Regions from separate parts of the Homo sapiens genome. Here region 2 is linked to region 1. Evidence: fine-mapped expression QTL. A gene starts in region 1. The other region holds a variant in brackets. All regions are shown on one strand. Distances are between the middles of the regions. Region 1 holds the start of PNMA3 (PNMA family member 3). Region 2 has its middle 20 kb from the start of PNMA5.

Region 1 (5,374 bases):
GCTGGATGCAGTGGCTCCCTGCTTTCCTCTCCAGCACCTCTTCGGGGACCTGGACCTGACCCCCACTGAGCCTGTTGCCAGGTGGTCTTGGTTGCTGAAGTCCCTTCCAGCTGGCCAAGGGTGAGAAGGCTTGGCCTTGGTCTGGCTGCCCTGTCCCTCTGCCCCACTCAACTCATCTGCTGTTTGTCTGGGCTTCTCTTTCCCCTCCTTCCAATATCTCTTTTGTCTCCTTGGCCTGTGGTAGGAAATGTTGCCCTGTTCTCCCGAGCCTACTTGGCCTTGGACTTGGGATGGCTCTTGTCCCAAGCCCAGTTCCCGTTTCCCGACTCAACTGCAGCCTGTTTCTTCTGCTTTACCAAGAGCAGGTTGGAGGGGTTGATGCACTGTACCCTGATGTGGCCGTCTTCCCCACAGCTATAGCAGAATGTGTGGCGTTTCCGTTTTCTTGAGCCTCGAGAGCCAGCCCTTGCCACACCACCCCTTCGGTGTTGGCCTCTGCCCCTCCGGCGCCGGTAGCCCTGGGAAGGCCTCGCATCAAAACTGTTGCCAGAGGCAGGGAGAGGTACTGCCCCAACCCCAGTGATCCTGGCAGGTGGCCTTGGGGCTACTTCCAGCCCCTCCAGACTCTCCCTATCTGGACCTAAAGTGGCCTCCCATTCCTCCTCCTCACGCAGGAGCTTCACCAGGGCCAGGAAACCAGGAGGCTTCCTTCGCTGTTTCATCAGCTTAAGCTTATCTCGGAGTTTGTCAGGAAGGGTGGCCCCACTTAAGACTCGTTTCAGGCGAGTCTGATTCACGTTTCTACGTGATACCACATTGTTTTCTACAGCTCTTTGGAGCAGGGGTTCCAAACGTAACACAAAGCTAGATACTTTCTCTCCTGCCTCCTGATAGGCTTTACACAACTTCACCTGGGCAATTTTATGGCTCTCCACAGGTCCGAACACCTGCTGCAAGGCAGCCAGGCACTCCTCCACAGTTATGGAAGCATTGCTGGCCCGGAGCCCACTGACCACCTGGAGAGCAGGGCCCCGTAAGCATTCCATCAGCCTCCGCCTCTTTTCCCCCTCGGGCACCTGCCACATCTGTAGCATCTCAGTGGTGTGCTCAAGCCAGGCATCAAAGGCCAGTGCACCTGGGATGGATATGGTGTTCCCAGAAAACACTCTTAGTTCTCGGTACAACATTTGTTCTAGCAGAGGCTGCACTGCTGCCCCCAGAGTCTGGGCCCAGGTCCAGAACTCTGGTGATATAGTCACTCTTGGAGCCGAACAATTGGTGTCCGACCCGAGGACTCGGTTCATATCTGACACGGTCCGCCTCTCCTCCTCTAAGAAGCGGTTCAGTCTGTTGAGAAATTCCCCATCTGAGTTACGGGGTTTTACAATCACTTCCCAGGGCCCCCCCTTTCCTGGTATTTCCCTTGGGAGCAAAGCATAGTCGATATCTTGTGCCAGCTCCAGTAGAATCGCCTGGGCGTTCTCCTCCCTCCTAAACATCCTGCCAATCACCCTGTATCTGCCCAGGTGCCTGCAAGCCTCCTGGAGTGTCTCCTCAAACTCATCCTCGCCACAGTCCTCGGGGATCCCCAGGATGAGCATGCACCTCCGGGTGTTCAGGTGTTCCCCCCGACACCAGTCCTGTAACAAGGTCAACGGCATGTCCTCGAATCTCTGCGGATACTAATTTGGGGGGAGTGATCAGGGCGTGAGGCACATATCTGGATCAACTCCTAGGGTGATCGCAGAAGGCCCAGGTCTCCACAGCCTGTGAATGCGAGCAGGGCGAGAGCGAGGTTAATGCCCACCTCTCCGCACGCCCACATCCACGCCCACCCCCACCCCCACCCCCAGCCGCCCTCCTCCCCGGGCGGCGCCTCTGCAGCCAGGCCCCGCCCCTGCCCAGCCCCCCACCCCCACCCCCCGTGGGGTCTCTGCGGGCCTCAGCCCCCTCCCCGCGCTGCCCCAGGACCCTGGACCCCTGCCCTGCAGGCTGCTTCAGTTCTGATAGGGCGGACAGGCGAGGGGCGGCGGAGTCTCCCGGGGCCCAGCGTCTCCCTCCCCAGGTGGGTCTGTTACCTTCTCCCAGGGCAAGGTCCCTTCTGGTCGGGGTCCCCAGAGGGCTCTCCGGGGGCTATGCGCGGCGGCGGCGGCGGCGGCGGACGGGGGTCGGGCACCCCTGGCTCCCAGCGCGGACGTTCGCTCAGACTGTGGCTCTCCCTCGCTCGCGCAGCACGTGGGCCAGTGCGCCGGCGCCTGCTCGCCGCGGCTCTCTGCAGTGCGGACACGGGGCGGGGGCGCGGCGGCGGTGCAGCGCGGACCCCTCCGCGTCGTCCGGGAGACCGCAGGGCCATTGGCGCGGACGGGTCACGAGGTCGGGCTCTCGCCGCCGCCCCTGGGGGCCCCAGGTCCCCGGGTGACGTCACCTGCTCCTCTCCCCTAGCCCCCCCGCCACGGGGGCCCCCGGGCCCCCGGGCACACAAGCGCCCGCCCACCCCCATCCCCACTGCGGTGGCCAAAGGTCTGTGGCGGCCAGTCCCCGTGCCTTTGGCTCTCACCACAGCGGTTCCTGGTCCCGGCTCCTGCCCCTCCCGCACGTGCCACGGAGGTGCCAGCGGGGCGAGGGGTCTGCACCCCGGCGTGCCCACCAGAGGGCCAGGGAGTGGTCTGAGGTGCGCCAGGCAGCTCTGCATTATGGCCAGGGTCAGGGAGCCGGGTTCTGGGGCCTGTTCACCTGCTCTTGTCCTCCCCCTCCCCGTCCAGGACTGGTCCTCTGGCTGGCGAGGCCAGGGGCACCTGGTGCGGGTGCCATTCCGTGCAGGAGATGCCCCAGGCACTCATGCAGGTCACGCACACCACCCCAAGGAGGGTCAGCCATCTCCCCGCTGTCCATCCCGCTGCTGGGACCTGAGGCCCTCCGGCCAAAGCGCTTCGCTGCCCAGGTGCCAGTGGACAGGTTTACCGGGACCTTTCCGGTTTTGTGCGCTGCAAATCTAGTGACTTGGGAAACCACTTCCAGGACTTGGAGCCCAATCCCTTGGGCCTGCCCTTCCTTGGCAGCCGTGCGCCGTGGGTTCTATTGTATCCGTTTGATCCCAGGGCAGCAGCCAAATGAAGAAGGGAGTGACTGTCCCTCAGGCAGTGGGCCCAGGTGTTCTGTGGGTCCTGCCTGCTCTGCCAGCCGCATGCTCAACTCCTATTCACACAGCTTCAGCTCCTCTCCAAACACAACGAAAAGGGGCTTGTGGTTGATTTTCAGGCCAGGTTCACCCATCCAGCCAAGTCTGGGAGGCCACCTTGCAGTGAGTGGGGCACAAAACTGTCCACTGACTTCCTGCCCCACCCTGAGTTCTGCTCGTCAGCCTGGCACTTGTCAGGGACCAAGAAGAAATGGCCCCAAGGGCTTTTTCCTGGTCAGACAGAATTCCTGAAACATCTTTACAGGAGTTATTTCATTTGCTCCTCACCAGAACTCTGAAGCAGGTATTAACATTATCCTGATTTGACTCATGAGGCTCAGAGAGATTAAGAGACATTTTCAAGGTCACACACCGTATTGAAGGTAGAATTGAGACTGGATTCTAAATTAGTGCCCATCAGTCTTTGGGTAGAATTGGGACTATTTCTCCCCTGGTTGCTTCATGCCTATTAGAATTTATTTCTCTCATTTTTGTCCATTCACAGTCCCTTGCTTTGTCACTCCAAGGGCTCAACCAGCTTCAAACTGAACCTTCATCTGCCCAACTTGCAGGGGTGGAAACAGAGGTTCAGAGAAGGGACACTACTGGCCCAAGGTCACACAGTGAGTAAATGACAAAGCTTGAGATGTCAAGGGGAGATGCCAAGTATTCATGCCAAGGCAGAGGGGCGTGTCTGGAATGTCTCCGGAAAGAAGCCTGTGAAGTTCCCAGACAGACGCAGTGATCTGTGGATGTTCTGGGCATTGGGAAAAAAGGATTTGGAAACACTGGTATCAAGACAATAGATGTGAATATGTCCAATTTGAAAAGTTTTAGAACTCCTTTATATTGGAGTTAACCTTTGCCCTTGAAACCAGTGGAAATGTCTTAATTACTTTTGCTTCCCCATCTCCTTGCATGGTAGATAACACAGCAGCACCAAAGTTGGGGAACTGATGGATAAACATTATTACTTGTAAAGTGAAAAACATAATACAGCATGAAGGAAGCAACCTCCACCGGGGTGGCCTTGCCCTGGCTTAGACCAGTAGTGACTATCGGGGTCACAAAAGGGGCAGATTCATGGGCCCCACCTCTGCAATCTGATCTGCTGAGTCTGAAACAGGCCTGGGAATTTTTTAAAGAGTTTCTGGTAATTAAATACTTTATAAAATACATTCTGCAATATTTAACATACAAAACGTACTTAAAAAGTACATCCAGTACTCCTGAATGTAGTAACTGGATGAAGACATAAAACACTGCCAGTGAGGGTAAGCGCCTGCAGATTCCTTCCCTGTTGTCTCCCACTCTTGTCCTCCATGTGCATTTCTTCGTGCTTTTTCTGCAAATGACTATATCCCTAAAAAATTGTCTTTGTCTCTTTTACACTTGGCAGAAATGATATCATACTATTCATAGTCATCACTGTATTAACTAATTATTGTTTGTGAGAATCACCATTTTGATATAAGCAAATTTTATTCCTCAATTTTCACTTCTGTATAGTATTCCATTGTGTGTGTGTGTGTACCAAAATTTATCAATTTTCCCATTGACAGATATTTAAGTTGTTTCCCATTTTTACTATCAGAAACAATGCTGCTTTAAATATTCTTGGAGAGTTCCTCTAAGTTATGTACCTAGCCATGGCATTGCTGAATCAAAGACTATCTTTAGTATTCAGAGACATTGCCAAATTGTCTTCTGGGTTGCTGTACAAATTTATGTTTCCATCAAGCTCCATATCATCACTAACATTTCATATTGTGTGACTTAAATGTTGTTAATCCTGAGGAATGTCAATTGTTATTATGCTTTTATGTAGAATTTCTATGATTATGAATTAGATTTAATACCTTGGTTGGGGGGGCATTTTTTATTCCTCTTGATTGAAATTCCTATTTTTGTCTCAATTCTCAACTGGGGTGCTTCTCTTTTTTAATTCTTTCATAGGAGTTATTTATTTACTTTGGATATTTCTTCCCATTAAGTTACTATTCCTGCACAACCAGCTACCCAAAACATACTGGCTTAAAACAACCATTTTATTCTGCTCACAATTTTGTAAGTGAGAAATTGAGAGAAGGTTTAGCTGGGCAGTTCACTCATGGGATCTCTCATGTGGTTGCATTGAGATATGAGTTGAGAATCAAGTCTAAAGACTCAACAGGGCTGGGCACCCAAGATGGTTCA
Region 2 (5,374 bases), 42 kb after region 1:
GTTTGCCAGTATTTTATTGAGAATTTTTACATCGATGTTCATCAGGGATATTGGTCTAAAATTCTCTTTTTTTGTTGTGTCTCTGCCAGGCTTTGGTATCAGGATGATGCTGGCCTCATAAAATGAGTTAGGGAGGATTCCCTCTTTTTCTATTGATTGGAATATTTTCTGAAGGAATGGTACCAGTTCCTGCTTGTACCTCTGGTAGAATTCGGCTGTGAATCCGTCTGGTCCTGGACTTTTTCTGGTTGGTAGGCTATTAATTATTGCCTCAATTTCAGAGTCTGTTATTGGTCTATTCAGGGATTCAACTTCCTCCTGGTTTAGTCTTGGGTGGGTGTATGTGTCCAGGAATTTATCCATTTCTTCTAGATTTTCTAGTTTATTTGCGTAGAGGTGTTTATAGTATTCTCTGATGGTAGTTTGTATTTCTGTGGGATGGGTAGTGATATCTCCTTTATCATTTTTTATTGCGTCTATTTGATTCTTCTTTCTTTTCTTCTTTATTAGTCTTGCTAGCAGTCTATCAATTTCGTTGATCTTTTCAAAAAACCAGCTCCTGGATTCATTGATTTTTTGAAGGGTTTTTTGTGTCTCTATTTCCTTCAGTTCTGCTCTGATCTTAGTTATTTCTTGCCTTCTGCTAGCTTTTGAATGTGTTTGCTCTTGCTTCTCCAGTTCTTTTAATTGTGAATGTTAGGGTGTCAATTTTAGATCTTTCCTGCTTTCTCTTGTGGGCATTTAGTGCTATAAATTTCCCTCTACACACTGCTTTAAATGTATCCCAGAGATTCTGGTAATGCCTGTGTCTAGAATGTTATTTCCCAGATTTTATTCTACAATTTTTATAGCTTAAGTCTTACATTTAAGTTTTAATTCCTCTTGAGTTGGTTTTTGTATATGGTGAAAGAAATGGATCCTGTTTCAGTCTTCTGCATATGGCTAGCCAATTATTCCTGCATGATTTACTGAATAGGGGTTCCTTTCCTCATTGCTGTTTTTCTCAACTTTGTTGAAGATGAGATGGTTGTAAGTGTGCCACTTTATTTCTGGGATCCCTATCCTGTTCCATTCGTCTAAGTGCCTGTTTTGTATCAGTACCATATGGTTTTGTAAATGTAGTAGAGTTTGAAGTCGGGTAGTGTGATACCTCTGGCTTTGTTCGTTTTGCTTTTTTTCTAATTCTGAGAAAAATGACATTAGTAGTTTGATAGTAATAGCATTGAATCTGCAAATTGCTTTGGGCAGTATGGTCATTTTAATGATATTGATTCTTCCCATTCATGAGGATGGAATGTCTTTCCATTTGTTTGTGTCATCTCTGATATCTTTGAGCAATGTTTTGTAATTTTCCTTGTAGAGATCTTTCACCTCCCTGGTTAGCTGTATCCCTATAGGCATTTTCTTCATTTTGTGGCAATTGTGAATGGGATTGCATTCTTCACTGGGCTTTCAGCTTGGATGTTATTGATGTCTAGAAATACTACTGATTATTGTATCCTGAAACTTTGCTGAAGTAGTTTGTCAGATCTAGGAGCCTTTGGGCAGAGACTACGGAGTTTCCTTGGTTTAAAATTATATCATTTGCGAAGAGAGATAGTTTGACTTCCTCTCTTCCTATTTGGATGCTTTTATTTACTTCTCTTGCCTGATTGCTCTGGCGAGGACTTCCAGTGCTATGTTGAATAGCAGTGGTGGGAGAGGGCATTCTTGTCTCATTGCAATTCTCAAGGGGAATGCTTTCAGCTTATGCCGAGACTACATGTTGAAAAATGTCCTTGAGAGCTTGACTTTGTAACACGTGGCAGTACCTTCTCTCGGTCTCTGCCATCCAGGGAACAGGAATTTTGGGGTTCATATCAGTTAGCCCTAAACATTATCTCGAGCAGTTAAAAACTTTTGCAAGCTCAAAATTGGCTGTCCTAGGCTCCTTCTGAGAAGAGGAGTGGAAACTGCCCAGTGCTATAGCTCGGCAGCTAAGGTTTTGCCGTATTATAATGGCTGCCCGGATTCAATTCCTGGCTTAGGGAATGAGTCCTTTCTGATTGATATCTGGGTAAGATTTACCATTTTTTAATTCTCTTCTCCTCCAAGAACTGTCTTGAATTTTCCTTTCTCTGAGCCAGAAATATTGGTCATTTGGCCTGGCTAAAGTTGGGTAATAAGAAATTTAAAAGAACTTTTTAAAAAGAGCATTATGGTTAAAAGTCAGCTTAATTAAAAGCGGATATTCAAGCTCTAATAGCCTGGACTTCTTGAGGAAAAACAGAGGAGGTGCCACAGACCCTGTTTTGGGAAAAAACCTCCTCTGTTTTCTTTGTAAAACCCAAGGAATTGAAAGCAGATAGATCCCTTTCCAAATCTAAGGTTCTGTTCTGTTTTGCATTGCATTATCTGACGTTTTTTACTTTTTGAGGTATCAGAAATTACTTCACATTATAAGAGAGCTTTGCTGTGTAATAACAAGGTAGGAAATATACTTTTATGGATGGCTAATGGCAGTCATGAGGCAATATGTGGCTCTTTGCATGTTTGGATTAGAAAAGCATGCTCCTGGCCACCTGGAAGGTATGGAGATATTCCCCCACTGAGAGATAAGGGTCCCATGGGAGATGGGCTAATT[C/G]CCTCTTTTTGGGATCCAGGATCTGGTATAAAAATGGGACCTTAATTTTGGGGAATCTGTTTTTGCCTTTCAGCTGTGCCTGCTTAATAGGCCCTACAAACTGCATCTTTTAAAAGAAACTTAAGAAACTGGCAAATGAAAAATCTTAACAACTACTGGTTATTCTTCTGTCTGTGTATTTATATGTGTTGTGTGTGTGATGTTTATGAAAGAGCTTTGATTAATTGGCTTAAAAATAGTGCTTAAATATTTTATCAGAAAAATAAAAAGCATAATGCCTTTTAGTTCACATTACTTTAGTAATTTTGGGGAAATAAAAACAGTTTTACAAGCAAGGTGTGTAAGGAAAGTGAAATGTGTTTTTGGTAAAAGATTAAAAGAAGGCATGAGAATGTGGATTTTTTTTAGAAGGTTAAAGGATTGTTTTAAGTTAGGTAGGAAAAAGCTGAAGATTTGAGCAAGTTGTGGAAGGTTTGTGAAAAATTAATCTTGTAAAAGAAATTCTGTGTGTGAACATATTGGCTAACATTAAAGGGTATTCAGTTTTTCTGTAAATTGAACATTGGAATAAAAGCACAACAGGCTTTTCATAAAGCACTCATCTGCTCTTTAACAAAAATTTTTCAAGGGTTTATAAGAATCTTACTTTATGATGAGACTTTAAAATTGGATAGATTTGTGTATAAGGTTTTATTAAGAATTGGGTTTAACATCAATAGTGCATTAATGGAAAGGGTGAAATGTGGCTTTCTCTCTTGAACAGGATTTTCATGTTTTATTAAAAAATAATGAAAGATTTTTGTTTGCCTTTTAAATAAACTACAGGAAAAGAGGGGAAAGAAAAGAGACATTGTTTGGAAAGCTAGGTCTTCCCTCTTCATGAGTAAGGGGTTTTGCCTTTTAAAAATTTTTTAAGTTATTATTTTGGCAAAATGAATGACTTATGGTCACCTGGGATTCTATTTTGTGATATCTAGTGTTTTAAACCTTTGATATTTGACAAGCTTCCCAAAATCAAATTATAAAATATGTCTTTTTCTGACCTAATTAATCTTTTAGATATTAGGTCACCTAAAGTCCAAAAGTGACTTTTGGCTTATTTGGTATAAAAGTCATACAGGAAGCATTGTCAAATATGAAATGGTGTTTGGCCTTCTTTGGGCTGTGTTTGTATAAATATGTTATTGGCATGTATTCCAAAATTATGGAAGCTCCTATAATTCTGATATAACTTAGTGTGTGTTATCAATAGTTATAATTGCTATGTAAAATTGTTGTATACCACAGAGGTAATCAAAATTTTTTTGTCCATTGTGGCTTTAATAGTGGCTGTCCTAAAATTTTGTCATCCACAGACAATTGTTATCTTGTTTTAATACTCTTCAGAAGGTGGTTTTATAATCACCTATAGAACCCTAACAAGTGTTATTAAATGCAGGTTTTCTGATAACTTTGGAGAGTGTGACATTCAGATAGAGGAAAAACTTTCAGGACTCATGGACAGCTGAAATGTTCATGAATATCAAACAGGACAGGAGCTAACTGCATGTATTGCGCTAATAGAAGTTTGAAGTAATCTTGGCTGTTTGCTTAAAATGTTGCTGATCCTTTGTTTTGTTTTCCAGAGTCAAGGAAACTTTTGAGCTATTTAAAGCTTTTAACAATTAAGTAAAGTATACACCTATGAACACAATTTGGAGCATATGGGGAAACTGGTTATTTTACCAAGGCTTTGACGAGAATAGGGTGCTTTCCTTTAAGGAAAAAAACTTGACTTATAGAGCCAATAAAAGCCCCTTGGGAAAACTGGCCTCATAGGTTGTCTATACAGTCCCTGTACAGGGTTCCTGACCCGTGGTAAGTAAAGCATGTCACTTTCTCACAGGCCCAGGTGCCCCCAGTTATCTTAGGACCTCAAGAGAAGAGGAATTTACCCAACTCGTAAGTATTTGAGAGTATAAACCCACAGCTGGGCTTGGCTTTAAAAAAAAAAAAAGTCTTCAGGGCTCACGCCTATAATCCCAGCACTTTTGGAGGCAGAGGCGGAGGCGGGTAGATCACGGGGTCAGGAGTTCAAGACCTGCCTGGCCAAGATGGTGAAACCCCATCTCTACTAAAAATACAAAAAATTAGCTGGGTGTGGTGGCAGGCACCTGTAATCCCAGCTACTTGGGAGGCTGAGGCGGAGAATTGCTTGAACCCGGGAGGGGAGGTTGCAGTGAGCCAAGATCATGCCACTGCACTCCAGCCTGGGTGACAGAGCGAGACTCTGTCAAAAAAAAATGGAAAAAAAGTCTTATCTGAGATTCTTTCGATGGAACAGAGTTCCATCAAAGCTAATTTAAAAATAATTATTCTTGCTGCACTTTATATGAATGATCAGGCCAAGTATAAGAAAGTAAATTGGTCTTACCATGATTTGTTTTTAATAAAAATGGGAGACTGGAGATAGAAAAACTCTTTCGAACACTGTGGTACACATGTTAATAGATTCTAGTCTCATCAGTTGTTCTGGGACTTTTTTCTTCAATTTAGACTAACCCTGCTTATTCCTGTGAACAAACCAGTGACCTCTGACTGCTATTCAGAAGAAAGAAGAGGGATGGGTGATGTAAAAATCTGGATCTGTATTCTAATTCTGGGCACATATTGGGATGGGCTAGCAACCCCATATCAACTTGGTTCCAACAATTGTCCAGTTCATGGAAAGCCTTTTCTAATTTAATTTACTAGAGATAATTTTACTTATTT

The links. PIP is the estimated chance that this variant, and not a neighbour inherited with it, causes the effect. A credible set is the group of variants that fine-mapping cannot tell apart.
Region 2: its variant is the best candidate, but not a certain one, in a credible set for the expression of PNMA3 in whole blood (TOPMed, PIP 0.67).

The regions. Positions count from the first base shown.
Region 1 is chrX:153,053,343-153,058,716 of GRCh38, reverse strand. It overlaps PNMA3 (PNMA family member 3), which reads right to left and starts at 2,247. Exons shown (of 2, transcript NM_013364.6): 1 at 2,079-2,247; 2 at 1-1,767. The coding sequence starts at 1,661. The coding sequence ends at 270.
Region 2 is chrX:153,010,989-153,016,362 of GRCh38, reverse strand. No RefSeq gene overlaps it. Among named protein-coding and RNA genes, the nearest start is that of PNMA5, 20 kb to the right of the region's middle. The variant C/G (reference allele first, on the strand shown) is at 2,624.